Homo sapiens: one gene and its partner. The protein of the gene in region 2 binds, or shares a complex with, the protein of the main gene of each other region. Each region holds a gene or a part of one and is shown on either strand. Other genes may lie near its edges.

What was found.
Region 1: the proteins of USP12 (region 2) and WDR48 are in contact, whole or in part, in a crystal structure (PDB 5K1C), measured with the Homo sapiens proteins. Residues at the interface, in NP_872294.2 of Homo sapiens: Arg185, Leu187, Thr188, Cys189, Glu190, Thr191, Ser227, Lys230, Cys236, Arg237, Ser238, Lys239, Gln240, Glu241, His243; in NP_065890.1 of Homo sapiens: Arg50, Trp77, Asp118, Tyr119, Lys121, Leu137, Ser170, Tyr172, Thr188, Asp211, Asn212, Lys214, Ser230, Gly254, Trp256, Arg272, Ile363, Ile364, Leu424, Lys425.

What each region holds. Positions count from the first base shown.
Region 1 is NC_000003.12:39,047,049-39,055,046, reverse strand, and holds the start of WDR48 (WD repeat-containing protein 48), read right to left. Parts: upstream 3,032-7,998; 5' UTR 3,022-3,031; coding exon 2,974-3,021; intron 2,756-2,973; exon of another isoform or gene 2,446-2,755; intron 1-2,445. UniProt on the Homo sapiens protein: Regulator of deubiquitinating complexes, which acts as a strong activator of USP1, USP12 and USP46. Enhances the USP1-mediated deubiquitination of FANCD2; USP1 being almost inactive by itself.
Region 2 is NC_000013.11:27,168,789-27,176,123, forward strand, and holds the start of USP12 (ubiquitin carboxyl-terminal hydrolase 12), read right to left. Parts: upstream 3,024-7,335; 5' UTR 2,852-3,023; coding exon 2,804-2,851; intron 348-2,803; exon of another isoform or gene 149-347; intron 1-148. UniProt on the Homo sapiens protein: Deubiquitinating enzyme that plays various roles in the regulation of the immune response and inflammation.

The DNA of each region.
Region 1 (7,998 bases), on a different chromosome or scaffold from region 2:
TTTCTTTTTGATGTATAAGAGCAAATAATGTGGTAAAAAGTTCAAAAATACAAAGTTGTGCATATTTCAAACTAAAAGATATCCCATGTCCTGTCTTATCTATAATCACACAATCTATTCCCAAAGGGATAATCACTGCTATTACCCTTCCTGACTTTTAAAATGCATATTTCCTTTGTGGAAATGGGAATATGCCATGTTGACTTGCTTTTTTGACTCTCTCTCTCTTTGAGGCCTCCCTGGAAGACGAGCAGATCCTAGCACCATATTTCCTGTAAAGCCTGCAGAACTATGAGCCAATTATGCCTCTTTTCTTTATAAATGAGCCAGTCTCAGGTATTTCTTTATAGCAATTCAAGAATGGCTTCACACAACACCCTTGCATAAGTAGGGACAGATACATGCATATGCAATTTTGTAGAATATATTTTTAGATAAGGAATTCTGGGCTAAAGGGAATGTTTATTTAAAAATTTGACAAAGCAAGACACAAAACAGTGAATACTATGGCTCCATTTATAGCAAAAAAATATGTTAAGTCAGGTACACAAACAGCAAGAGGTATAGAACAGCGGTTCTCAACCAGCGGCAATTTTGCCCTTGAGGGGACATTTGAAAATGTCTGGAGACATTTTTAGTTGTCACAACTGGGGAGATGCTACTACATCTAGTTGGTAGAAGCCAGGGATGATGCCAAAGAACCTGTGATGCATAGGACAGCTCCCTCCCTCAGACACAGCGAAGAATTATCCAGATGAAATTTCAAGAATGTTCAGGTTGATAAACTCTGGTCTAGGATTAAAACATGACATTGCCCGCAGTAGCTTTCTTGGAAGCATGGAGGGCAACTCTAATTTATGTTTTTGTTTGTTGGGATTTTTACAATGAACACGCATTAGTTTAAAAAACACCTCATAGACAATGATGGTTCAGATGAAATCAATCCCTGTGGCTTCTCAGGCTGCTTCTATACCTTAGGGACAAATTCCGAAAGTTCCCTGAATCTTCTCTTCAGCAGGTTAATCTAAGACAGCTCTTTCAAAAGTTCTTCATAGGAAATAATTTCAAGTCAGTTCACCAATCTGATTGCTACCTATGAAGAACAAGGTCCTAAGTGCTGAACACCAAACTCTAATTTTGTACTTTGACCAGTGAAAAGTGGAATTATCTATCACCTGCCTCATTCTACGTGCACTGGCTCACATTCAGCCTATTGGAACACTGTTTTTCCAAACCTGCTGCAGTTAATTTACATTTTCTCCATCCCATACTAGTACAATTGCCTTGTAAGTCTTTTTAAAATATATATACTTTATTGCATGCATTTTGGGAGTGGGCAGGCCTGGGAAGGAAGCAAGCAGGGAACACACTGCAGTAATAGGAGTTTTAAGTCTTAATGCAATAAACTGAAAGGCCTGATTAACTACCCTTACTCTCCTAAGATGTACACCACCATAGAGTCTATAATACAATCGGGTTACTTTTTGAGTTATATTTCAGTCCCAAGGAGACATTCTCACTACCTGCCTTGGATGCTGGTGATACTTAAATCCTATCACTAATGCACTGAAAAACACCTAATAGGGTGAGTTTAGACTTATTAATTTCACTCATTTCAACAAACATCCAGTGAGTGCTTAAGACACTGTACTGATCAGTGAGATCAATAAAACCAAGATGTGAACTAATCAGAAGACTTTATGGCCTACCACCTTCTGCTGGGATTACCTTACTGAAGGACCCCTTCATCTAACTACCTTTATCTGACACTTGATTTCAACCCGCAGAACTCCATATAATGCTGTGTTTTATAAAGAAAGCCTAGGTGTTAATTATTTCTACACCCTTTCAATCCCTTTTCCCCTTTGGGGGCCACCCTAAGTGCTAGGTAAATGTTTAATGAATAAATGCACCAAACTGCCACTACCACATACAATATACCTGCAGGCAAACACCTGTAAGAGGGCTTTTATTCCCTGCATCACTGAAAATATTAAGTGGCAATAACTATTTTTTAATATTATTATTATACTTTAAGTTCTAGGATATATGTGCACAACGTGCAGGTTTGTTACATAGGTATACGTGTGCCATGCTGGTTTGCTGTACCCATCAACTCGTCATTTACATTAGGTATTTCTCCTAATGCTATCCCTCCCCTAGCGCCCCCAGCCCCCGACAGGCCCCGGTGTGTGATGTTCCCCGAAGTGGCAGTAACTCTTAAGCGTAACCGCAAACAAAAGTGAATTCACAAAGGCATAAGGCACAAGACACACACGGTAAGATTAGACAACTCTTTACCACATGGACAATAAATTACACAAACAATAAAGACAGATTCAGCGATGCACACTTAAGATGAAGAAATGGTGAAGAGGAACTTAAATACCAAAACAATTAAAATTATAATTTCCCCACGCACATTCTTATGTCACTTAAACCTACCCAGGGGACAGCTCCCACATAAGAGAGGGCTGGGGGCTCCCAAGTGCGGAATCCTCAGCAGAAACCCCGCAGGGCCGTTGGCGCTCCGCCGCCTCGCCACGCCCCCGCACAAGCCGCTCACTCCTCCAACGCCCACCCCCCTGGGAAACCCCTGGAGGCCTCGGCTCCGACGCAGCGAGGGCAGAGCGCTTCGAAGAAAGACAGGGCAAGGGGGAGGCAAGTGGGCGGGGAACGAGCCTATCCCGACCCCGCAAGTCCACTCCTACAGAAGAGCGGCGACAAGCAATCCCGGGCTCAGAATGCCGCCCACGAGGGTCCCGGGCCTGGGCCCCAAGGGCCAAGCAAGCCGACCCCCGCCCCTTCCTCAAGCCGTTAGCGCCGCGGCCCCACCCCTCGTGGCCGGCCGCGCCCCGCCCCGTTCGCCCCATGCCGCTACCCCAGCTGGTCGTGGCGCCGGGCACCTTCTAGCTGGAGTGGGCCCGGAGCTGCCGGCCGCGTCCGGAAGACCGAGGAACCGGGCTTCCATACCTGCACTTTCCTCCGCCCTGCTGTGTTCTGCCGGTGATGGGCCGCCATCTTGCATGTTGACACTCCGACGTCACTTCCGGAGGTGGCTCAGAGCGGGAGGATGTCCTGCCCCTTTCCCTTTGGCCAAGGGTTAGTGGCGGGGCTGAAGGTAAACAGGCTGTTGTGTTTCCTCGGTGCTGTTAGTTGCTGTGTGGCCGGTAGCCATGTGATGAGGTAGATGCACCTAAAAACAAAACCACTGTGCAAGTATAATGCTGATGGGGAGAGAGCCACTTTTCAGGGCTGAGGGAGCAACACGAATTCACTTGTGTGGTCCTAGACCCTGGCTTGCGCTCTTTTCCGCGCCCTCCCCGAGAGGCCCAAGCAAAACGAAAGCACTGAAAGAATTAACAGTGCTAGACATGGCGCTGGACCATCTCCTGACCTTTCCTAGGCAGGCAGGAGAACCAAGTGAACCAAGTGATTTACTGTTAAGTACCTAAAAATGCGGAGAATTATGTCGTGGCCTCAAAGGGGGAGAGATAGAAGTCCTTGCAAAGGAGGTGGCCTCCATCTTCAGGGGGAGCAAAGAATCCGTTTAAATTAAAAGGATAAAAAGTGGGGCCATAAAAGAACGAGATCATGTCCTTTGTAGGGACATGATGGAGCTGGAGGCCCTTATCCTTAAGCAAACTAACAAAGGAACAGAAAACCAAATACCGCACGTTCTCACTTATAAGTGGGAGCTAAATGATGAGAACACATGGACACAAAAGAGGGGGACAACACACACTGGGGCCTTTCGGAGGGTGGAGGGTGGGAGGAGGGCGAGGATCAGGAAAAATAACTAATGGGTACTAGGCTTAATACCTGGGTGACAAAATAGCCTGTACAACAAACACCCGTGACACAAGTTTACCTATATAACAAACCTGCACTTGTACCCCTGAACTTAAAAGTTTAAAAAAAAAAAACAAGACAAAAAGATGTTATAGGAAGGCGAAAACGGTACACCAGCTAAAATTGTTCCCAGAGACAATTCTAGTTTAAATCATCTCTTATACTGGAACAGTTAGGTTTGACTTAAGGTGGTTTTCCTGACCACTAATTATAAGAGCTGAGGGTGATCAGACCCTCTCTAGTGAAAGTGAATCCTATAGAACTACACTGTGGGATATAGCATATGATGTATCTGCTAGTCATTTGTGGCTCTTGAGCACTTGAAATATAGCTAGTTCCAGTTGAGATATGTAATTGTAAACTACCCCCAAATTTCAAAGACTAGTTTGAAGAAAAGAATGTAAAATATCTCATTAATAATTTTTTGTATTGATTTCATGTTGAAATGATGTTTGGGGGTATATTAGGCTAAATAAAATTTATTAATTTTGTCATGGATATTAGAATATTTAAAATTACATATGTGGTCACAAATTTCTGTTGCATAGTGCTAGTATATAAGTAATGCTTAGAAAAGTTGTCTTGACAAATACTTCTTAAATTAATAAAGAAATGTGAATTAGATGAGTAAAAATTGTGATGGCAGAAAGCTTCTTAAGCAAAACTGGCAGTGATAACTTATAGGTAAATTACTGCATCATTACAGGCTTATTCATTCACTGATTCATGTATTCATTCATTTAACAAAATATTATTTAGCATATCATATATGCCAGGCACTATATTAGGTGTTGGGGAATCAGTGGTGAGTGCACATAGTCATAGAACTTAGAGTCCCAGGATGAGACAGGAATTAATACAGAGATAAGTACTATGAAGAAAGATGATTGTAAGACAGGAAGTATCTTGAGTCAAGAGTTAACTAGGCAAGGAGAGGGAACAGTCTGAGCAAAGGTCTTGTAGCAGGAGAGAGCATGGAACATTACAGGAACTGAGAGTCAAGGCTTAGAGTACAGAGAAGTGAAAGGAGTATGCAGAGGCCATACCCAGCAGGATCTTTTAGACCAATGGGAAGCTGTTGAAATACAGGTAGGGAAATAATATGTCTGTATTTTAAAAATTGCTTAAGTGTCTATTGAGCACCTATGATGTGCAAAATACAATACAGGTATGTTGCTCTGGACAATATACTGGTACTTGCTAGAAATTGATATGTTGTAGTCCTGCTTTGGACCTGAAAAATATTGAAATAGTGAAGTTCTTTCAGTGGGCAGAATTTTCACCAGTATGTTTTGATGTTCAGTTTGGCTGAAAGGAGAAATGGTCAATTCAGGGTCAGAGGATAATTTTTTGGCCAGTTTGTGAAGGACATGGAAAGAGCAAGACTGGAGAACTAGTGACAAGGAAGACTCCAGAAGGGATATAGTGATGGACCTCTCAGAATAAATCTTAAGAATCATATGGATGAAATGAACTGCTTTGTGATGAAACTCAGCCTCACTGCCTGCTCAGTAGAATCATGAAATAAATGGCAATGGCAATGGCAACAGGATTGGAGCTATGCATGGGATCACCAAGCCACCGCTGGGTGTTCAGAAGCAGTGACCAATACCCCATGCTCTGGGAGGGTCAGCCAGTCACATGTAGGCAAGTCTATTCCATTGGTCATTGGCCCTCCCCATCATTGAGGGAGTTCTTATTTGTCCTCTCTAAAATATGTTTATTCTAGATTGAGATTTGCTTTCCCTGCTCACTGTACTTCCGCTGACACCACCATCTAGGGAATTACTCAGTGCTTTAGACACTATCATTTTCTCTAACACTATATTGCTTTTGACCAAGAAATTCACTCTGCAATGAAAGAAGTAATGCAATGGGCTATTGCCCATGGAATTTATTGGTCTAATTGTGTACTCAATCACTGAGAAGTATCTTGTCTTATTGAAGATATATTGAAGACTTAGCTATGGTGCCTTCTGGGAGATAACCCTTTTTGATACTGTCCTGTAGGATGCAGTATATGCTCTGAACTACTGTCCAATATTCAGCACTCTTTTTTCCTGTTCCTTTTATCTATTGCTGTTTAACCATCTGCAAAATGCAATGGTTTAAAACAATTACAACCCTTACTTTACTTACAAATCTGTAATTTATGCAGAGCTTCATGGGAACAGATTGTCTCTGTTCCACTATCCACTTCACATCAGCTGGGGCAGCTAAAAGATTGGGGCTGGAATCATCTGAAGACCCCTTCTCTCACATGTCTGGTGACTGATACTGGTGTTGGCCTAGTCCTTAGCCAAAGCTGTGGCTAGAACACCTTCTCATGATCTTTCCACAGCACTATTTGGTTCCTCACAATATGCTAACTGGGTTCCAAGGATGAGCATCCCGAAGAAGAAAAATCTGGTTGAAAGCTATAATGCTTTTTCTAAACTCACAGTGGAAGTCATGCAGTGTCACTTTAAGCCATAGTCAATTCATTAGAACTTAGTTACTAAGGCCATCAGTGTCTAAGGAGAGGGGATTAGATGACTCCTTTTTTTATGAAGTATCAATAAATTTGTGGATGTATTTTTTAATTGACACATAATAATTGTACATATATATGGGGTACAGTGTGATATTTTGATACCTGTATACAATCTGTAATAATTGCTTTGGGAAAATTCAATATCCACTCTTTTAGCTATTTGAAAATATGGAATAAATTATTGTTAATCATAGTCATCCTACAGTGATATAGAACACCAAAAATTATTCCTTCTACCTAGCTGTAATTTTATATGTGTTAACCAACCTCTCTATATATAATCCTCTCCTTTACCCTTCTCAGCCACTAGTTACCACTATTCTGTTCTCTACTTCTCTGAGATCAACTTATTTCTCTTTCACATATTGGTGAGAACATGCAGTATTTATCTTTCTGTGCCTGGCTTATTTCACTTAAGATAATGACCTCCGGTGCTATCCATGTTGCTGCAAATGACATAATTTTATTCTTTTTTATGATTGAATAGTATTTCATTGCATATATGTACCACATTTTCTTTATCCATTCTTCTTTTGATGGACACTTAGGTTAACTCCGTATCTTGGCCACTGTGAATAGTGCTGCAGTAACTGTGGGAGGACAGGTATCTCTTTGACATACTGATTTCCTGTTCTTTGGGTAGTAGTGGGATTGCTGGATCATATGGTAGTTGTAGTTTTAGTTCTTTGAGAAATCTACACACTGTTTTCCATAATGGTTGAACTAATTTACATTCCTATCAACAGTGTATGAATTCCCTTTTCTCTGCATCCTCACCCTCTGCATTTGTTTTTGTCTTTTTCGTATAGCGATTCTAACTGGAGTGAGATAATATCTCACTGTGGTTTTGATTTGTATTTCCCTGATGATTAGTGATGTTGAGCATTTTTTTCATGTATTTGTTGGCTATTTATATGTCTTCTTTTGAAAAATGTGTATTCAGATCATTTGCCCATTTAAAAATTATTTGGGTTTTTTTTGCTATTGAGTTGTTTGAGTTTTTTATACTTCCTGGATATTAATTCCTTGTTGGATGAATACTTTGCAAATATTTTCTCTCATTCTGTAGGCTGTCTCATTCCTCTATTGATTGTTTCCTTTTCTGTGCAGAAGCTTTTTAGTTTGATGTAATCCAATTTGTCTATATTTGGTTTTGTTGCCTGTGCTTTTGAGGGCTTATCCATAAAATCTTTGCCCAGGCCAATGTCCTGAAGCATTTCTCCTGTATTATCTTTTAGTAGTTTCATAGTTTTGGGTTTTATATTTAGGTTTTTAATCCATTTCGTGTTGATTTTTGTATAGGGTGAGACGTAGGGAGTCTAGTTTCTTTCCTTTTCATATAGGGGGTCAGTTTTCCCAGCACCATTTATTGAACAGGCTGTTCTTTTCCCAATATGTTATAGGGCCTTTGTTAAAAATCAGTTAATTGCCAGGCATGGTGGTACATGCCTGTAGTCCCAGCTACTTGGAAGGCTGATATATGAGGATTGCTTAAGCCCAGGAGTTTGAGGCCTGCAGTATACTACAATTGTGAATAGTCACTGCACTCCAGCCTGGGAAACATAGCAAGACCCAGTCTTAAAAAAAAAAAAGGGGGTGGGGGTGGGGGTGGG
Region 2 (7,335 bases):
CAGCTGAAGAGAATTGTTTTTAACAGTTACTTAACCCAATTAAGGTATTGCAGATTTGCCCAGGTACGTTATTTTGACAAATGAAAAAATTATGTACACTTCAGTACTTATAGAATAAAATTTCAACTCATCCTAAATGTTTTCACAGCTGCTGATTCTGAGAAGTGTTCTGTTTAAGTCCAGCCCATCTTCTCTCCACCATTCCACACACACACAGCCACATCATCCCTGCTTCACCCGGCATACCAGGAGGAGGCAGGAAGGACTTTGGAAAACTTTTATACTGAATGCAGAACTTGGTACTCCAGATCAAACTGCAGAAGTAAATGATAATCCTTCCCCTTCAAGGCCCTCACAATTGAGTAAGAGTTCAAAGAAAAATTTACTGCACAGTAAGTATGATAAGTGCTACTGAGATTACAAAAATGCCATGAAACTGTATGAAGGGGATGGAGGGTCGGGTTGGACAGGGGTAGGATTATTCAAGTAAGGCTCCCTGCTTAAGAGACAGGCACACACACTCGCCAGACAAGAAGGATACGGGGTGTGGCAGGGAGGAGCGTTCCAAGCCTAGCAAAACAGCACCTACAAAGCCAAAGAGGTATCTTTGCTTTTCAATTTTGTGATTCTCAGAGGACAAATGGCAATTTTCTTTAAAGAATAAGACTGCAAATTACTTTGAGATATTCAGCACTATTTGGGGGTACATTCGAATGTATTCAAATATGAATACAGACACACCCAATTTTAATAGTACCTTTGGAACGATCTCATTTGGCCAGGCATTTTCTGTATTTGCCAACAATACACACGCCCCACATGTAATTAATGTATCTGGATGGAAGCCCTAGAAAGAGCTTCTGATTTGACATCCTTGGGATCAGAATCCCACTTACTAAGTGTGTGACCCTGGCAAATCCCTGTGTCTCACTGTCCTAATCTGATTACAGCATACATTTATTGTTTACCTGAATACTGTTTGTGTCCATGAGCAAGAATGTAAACACCAAGAAAACAGGGGCTGCCCTGACCAATACTGCATCCCCAGTACTCAGCGTCGCCTCTAGCACTTAGTGGCTGCTAAGTGTATACTTGATATACAGTACTTGAGTGAATGAACAGTCGGTAAAGAGTATCACACCACTCCTGAAATCTAGTCTTTGACAATGAACTATGACCCATACAATGTGTGTAGCTCAGCCATGTGGCAAAATTGTCACTGTAAAAGACCTAATTATCGCATTCCTTTTGAAATTGACTAAGATAATAATTGGCGTATCTAAAAATAATTAGCCCAAACAATTCTCCAAAATCATTTTAATATAGTCCATTTAATACAAATGCTTTCCTAAAATGTAAACTGTGAGAAAGAACAATCATCCAGTTGGGAAATGGAGTCTTCAATGATTCATCCTTCAATATGATTTCTTTAATACTGTCGATTTTATGTCCACCTGATTTCAGTCATTTTTTGTACTGTTCCTCAGCGTGTAGTAGAGAATCTGCTTTTTAAGGCATCTTTCAGATCTGATTCACCACTCCTTAAAGAAAAATATATACAATGTACCACCCTTAGATGGAAAATTTCTTGGGGATCTCCTATATGAAATCAGTTGCATAAATAGGGCCAGTGAGGCATGAAACACAAGATTTCAGAAGTCTCTAATAACAACCACTAGGCCCACGTTGCAAAGAACAACTTTTTTCGGTGATGACTCATAAATTATGATCCCTACATATAAGCTCATGAGGAACTAATGAAACGAATTTGTCTCATCATGTGGAAAACTGTGGTCCTTCTGGCCACGCACAAAACACCAAGTTTTAAACGCGCCCACGTTTTGCTTAATTCGGGACTTCCAGCGGGCATTAGCACTTTTCCCTTACAGTCTATTTAAACGCCCTAGGAAAACAAATACCATCGCCTTGGCAGGCGGTCCCCGCACAGACAGACCTAGCTCCAGCCACATACAGATGTGTCTGGTGGGCTGAAGTAAACAAATGACAGGAAAGCTAATGCTGCTTTTCAAGATTAACGTGCATTCCCAGAGACAAGACTGCCACCTGGACACACGGCTGGAAACGGGAGAGCTCGTGCCTCTCAGAGGAGAAAATGGAGAGAATTTCAACAGTACTTATTTAAAGTTTCCACCTTCACACACGCCCCTTTCCCCCAGCGCGGGGTCGGGGACTCGGCCCAGCCAGCGGCGCGAGGAAATCTGCACTTGACTTCCGTCCTCTCCCAGGCGGGAATGAGCGCTGCCCGCCCCGGCCGAGACCCTTCCTTCCTGCCCGCCGACCCCCACCCCTCCCGGGGACCCCTCCCGCTCGGCGCGCGACCAGAAGGAAATGGAGCCCGCGCGGCTCCGCGCCCCCTCCCCGACGACCCCGGCCCGGGGCCGCGCTCTGGCTCGCGCGCGCCCACCCCTCACCCCGGCACAGGCCGGGCGCGCCTCGGCCCTCGTCCCCGCGTCCCGAGCGGACCCCAGCAGTTCAGCCGGGGACTCCCGGAGGCCGGTGCCCGCCCGACGCCGCGTCTGGCACGGTCGCCCACTCACCGCTACCCTCGCGCCGCCCTGGCCCACCAGGCGGCGCCCCCTCCCCAGCCGCCTGGGCCGCTCACCCCCGCGCTCCCCGCCTGCGCGCCGTCCAACCGCCCCCGCCCGGGCCGCCCGGGCCGCCCAGCCCGCCCGCCCGCCCCGGCGCTAGGCCCCGCGAGCGGCCACTGGGAGAGGCGGGTCCAGCGCCGCCCGCCCGCCCGAGAGGTCCCGGCAGCCCCGGCCGCCCGCTCGCCGCCACCTACCATGGTACAGATGGAGGCGAATTTGGAGACTGTCATTAGGATTTCCATCCGGCCAGCGCCATCTTCCACCCAATCACAGCGGCGGCGGCGGGCGGGGGAGGAGGGGAGCCGGGCCGCCCGCTCGCACCGCAGCCCGCGGGCGGACCCCGAGCCGCCGCGGACCCAACCACCGAGCCCGCTGGGCCGCCGCTGCCGTCGTCGCCGCCGGCGCTCAGGCACTCCCGGCCTCGGGCCCCAGCCCCCGCCTGCCGGCCGCCGGCCCGCCCCCGGCTCCGCCCCGGCGCAGGGCGCAGCCGCTGCCTCCGGGCCCGCGCCTGCACGCGAAGCCGCCCTCCGCCCACCCCGCCCAGCGCACAGGGGAGCGGGCTCCGCCGAGGCCCTAATGCCCGGCCTGCCAGGCAGCGGCGCGGCCAGGCGGCGCAGCCCCGCCCACCCCTCGGCAACCCCTCCGCGGCCCTTGTGCGCGAGCCGGGGAACTCCGGTCCGTCCCCACCCCGCGCGCGGCAGAGGGCAGGACCGAAGGCGGGCGCCACCTCCTGCCCGCGTCCCTGCGGTCCTAGAGCCGGGGACCCAGAGACCCCCGCGTAGGAAGGGGTGCGGCGGGGAGGCGCGGGGGTGGCGGCGGCGATCTGGGAGAACCCTGGAGGGGACCAGCTGCGACACCCACCGCGGGCGAGGGGACGGCGAGCCCCCGCTGCCTAAACAGAAAACGGAGGCGATGATCTGGGTAACTACGGGCGGAGTGGGAGGAAACCTGCTCTGCACAGTTAAGATAACCCGGGTATGCGTCCCAAGCACTTGGTTTGTTTCTTTTTACGTATATTGGATGAATCACCGGAGTCAAACACAACTTAGAAAAAGACAAAATAATTAAACAAAAATGAAGAGGCAAAGAACAAATTACACATGTTTAACTCTTTGAATTAAGAAGAAAGATAAGTAATGGGGGAAGGAGAGGAGCGAAACCTGTTGGCCTGTTGGCGATAAATTTATAATAGGCTTCTAAATATCTGCACATTGAGCTGCAAAATAGGGAGGATCTCAAGCCAGCAGTGATGATGATATTACCAGAGACAGGAAGCCCGCAAGCAAGAAAAATGCCCTGTGAGAAATCCTTAGGCAGTGCTGGCTACTGGCATGGGTAGTTCCTCTTTCTCCTTTTATAAAATTCATATTTGCACCCTGTTCTTCATGCCTGGCAGCTCAGCTTTATTTTTTCCTATTTGAGAAAGTAGTTCAAGTGAGTAGAATAACTTCATAAATTATTATGTTAGAAAGCTTGTGATATTTTCTGATTGAACTCGTGATGGGGTACTTTTCTGGGTTCCCCTAATTCAGTGGGGTTGAGGATCTGAATTCAGGCAGAGCTGTAAAATCAGAAATGCCTCACCTCAAGGGTTCAAAGCACTCAAAAACAAAAAGCATTCAAACAAAATTTAAGTGAAAAATAGACTTCTGGTACATGAATACTGTTTCCATAGTGATTCCATTATAAGCTTGCTTGGGGGGGGAATGCAGATTGAATATAGCCAAGCCCCATGGTAGCCGGACTGGATCTCCAAGCGCCTGCCTCCATGGAAGCCAAGAGCCCTGATACCCCAGCCAGGGGCTTTCCTCTCTATACTTGCAAGCATCACCCACCTGAATTCTTTCTTGCTCTTTTCTACCCCCTGTTTGGACAAGGGTTTCTACATCTTAGACCTCTAGGGCCTACCTGGGCCTTGTCCGAGTGTCACCATGCCCATCTGTGTGCCCGTCCTGATAAATAGCTGTGGTCATCCTGTCCTTCCCACTTGCTGTTCTATTCCAGCAAACAGGTCTGATGTGCCAGAATTTTAGACCTGCCTCCATCCCGCTAACCACCCATATGCCTCCTTGTCCATTAATCCGAACATGTCACAGGAACAAAAGCCACTGGCTTTACATATAAGTTTATATAAGAACAAGGCCTTTCTAAAATGAATTTCTAGGCTGAGTATGGTGGCTCACACCTGTAATTCCAGCACTTTGGGAGGCCGAGGCAGGTGGATCACTTGAGGTCAGGAGTTGGAGACCAGCCTGGCCAACGTGGTGAAATCCCGTCTCTACTAAAATACAAAAATTAGCCAGGCGTAGCAGTGTACGCCTGTAATCCCAGCTACTCAGGAGGCTGAGGCATAAGAATAGATTGGATCCTGGAGGTGGAGATTGCAGTGAACTGGGATTGTGCCATTGCACCCCAGCCTGGGTGACAGAGTGAGACTCTCTCAAAAATAAATAAATAAATAAATTTCTAGGCTGGGCACAGTGGATCAGGCCTGTAATCCCAGCACTTTGGGAGGCTGAGGCAGGAGGATGGCTTCCAACTTCCTTGAGACCAGGGAGTTCAAGACCAGCCTGGGCAACATAGTGAGACCTTGTCTCTACTAAAAATAAAAATAAATACGTGGTGCATGGTGGCGCATACCTATAGTCCCAGCTACTTGTGAGGCGAAGTAAGAGGATAACTTAAGCCCGAGATATCCAGGTTGCAGTGAGCCATGATTGAACCACTGCACTGTAGCCTGAGCGACAGACTGAAACAGTATCTCAAAAATACAGCACAGTGGCTCTCGCCTGTTGTAATCCCAGCACTTTGGGAGGCCAAGGCGGGCGGATCACTTGAGGTCAGGAGTTTGAGACCAACCTGGCCAACATGGAGAAAGCCCATCTCTACTAAAACTACAAAAATTAGTTGGGCATGGTGGCGAGCACCTGTAATCCAAGCTACTAGGGAGGCTGAGGCAGGAGAGTCGCATGAACCTGGGAAAAACCAGTGAGCCGAGATCATGCTACTGCACTCCAGCTTGGGCGACAGAGTAAGATTCCGTCTCAAAAATTAAATTAAATTAAATTTTAAAAAGTAAAATGGATTTCTGATAGAATTATCTGGAGTCATGTCTAGTTGATGTTGGAGCCATCTAAATTCACAGGTAAAGTCATGAAACCTAATCACAGAGCCTCACAATGCCTTGTCTCCACAGCCTATGGTCGATTGGAGAGACACAAACATAAAAGAGACATTCTTGAATCTATGTGCTAGGTGTTGTACTGAGTGTTCTTTACCATATGTAATGCAGTTGGAGAATAAGTTTGGCTGAAACTCCACACTTTTGCACCCTGAGCTTGGAAAGGGTAATCTGGCTTTAGAACACAGCTTTACACAGCTGTGTAATCAGCTTTACAAAGAGCTTCCCTGTGCCTAGCAAAAGATGAGTTTGTGTACAACTGACTCCTTTTCGGCCTTCTTGAATATGCAAACTACAAAATATGCCCAGATGCCTCAGGGACCAGGCAAGTAAATGAACTATGTCCAACCTTAATCCATTTAGTCAGCACAGCATTTTATAATGTTTTCATTTGCATACTGTTACACAATCCTACACTCTCCAGTTCCTTACAGTCTGCCTCAAATTTTCCTTTACTCATTCTGTTCAACAGTTTAACACAAGTCACTTTATTATATAGTTCTGCTACCTCTTTTCTCCCTGAAGGCATGTGGGTTTATACCAGCTCACATAAATGATTCGTGAAGCTTTGCTTGTGATGGGTTGGGAAAGAAAGTGATGGGGAGTGGTCCAAGAAGGGGTGTAAACATTTTATCTAATCCTTGCAACAACCTAATGAAGCAGGTGTTACGATTATCCCCACGTTTAGATAAGGAAACCAAGGCACAGAGATAACTTTTCCAGGGTTGCACAACTAACTAGTAAGCAATGGAACCAAGGTTTGAACCTAGCTCCAGGAGCCACACCTGTGTCCACTCCACTACACTAGCTTTGTAAAAGTATTTTATTTTGATTCTGACAGGATGAGGTTGAGAGGCACGACTCCTTTCGGACTTGCATGAAGGTTTAAGCTACAAAAAAAAAATACTCAAATCGATATTTCTTTGTTTCACTTTCCTCATCTGGAAAATAAGGGTAATAATTATGTTACAACGATAAAACATGTTTCAAATAGTGCCTGGCGCTCAACACAAAATGGAAAGTTTAGAATGGACATTCAAAGTCAACATTTTAAAAGTTGGGGGGCCGTGCGCAGTGGCTCATGCCTGTAATCCCAGCACTTTGGGAGGCCGAGGCAGGCAGATCACGAGGTCAGGACATCAAGACCATCCTGGCTAACCCGGTGAAACCCCTTCTCTACTAAAAAATACAAAAAATTAGCCGGGCATGGTGGCGGGCGCCTGTAGTCCCAGCTACTCGGGAGGCTGAGGCAGGAGAATGGCGTGAACCTGGATGGCAGAGCTTGCAGTGAGCCAAGGTCGCGCCACTGCACTCCAGCCTGGGCAACCGAGCGAGACTCCGTCTCAAAAAAAAAAAAATTTAAAAAAAAAAAAAGTTGGGGTGGGCAAATACAGCCCTCGGGCTGCCAGCTTGCTCCTCCAGATTTAATGAGCCTCTGCTATGTGCCAGCCACCTGCTTAGTACTTCAGATACATATTCCAATGTAACCCTTACGATGACCTTACAGATCCATCATTTCATACTTATTTTACACACAGGGGAATA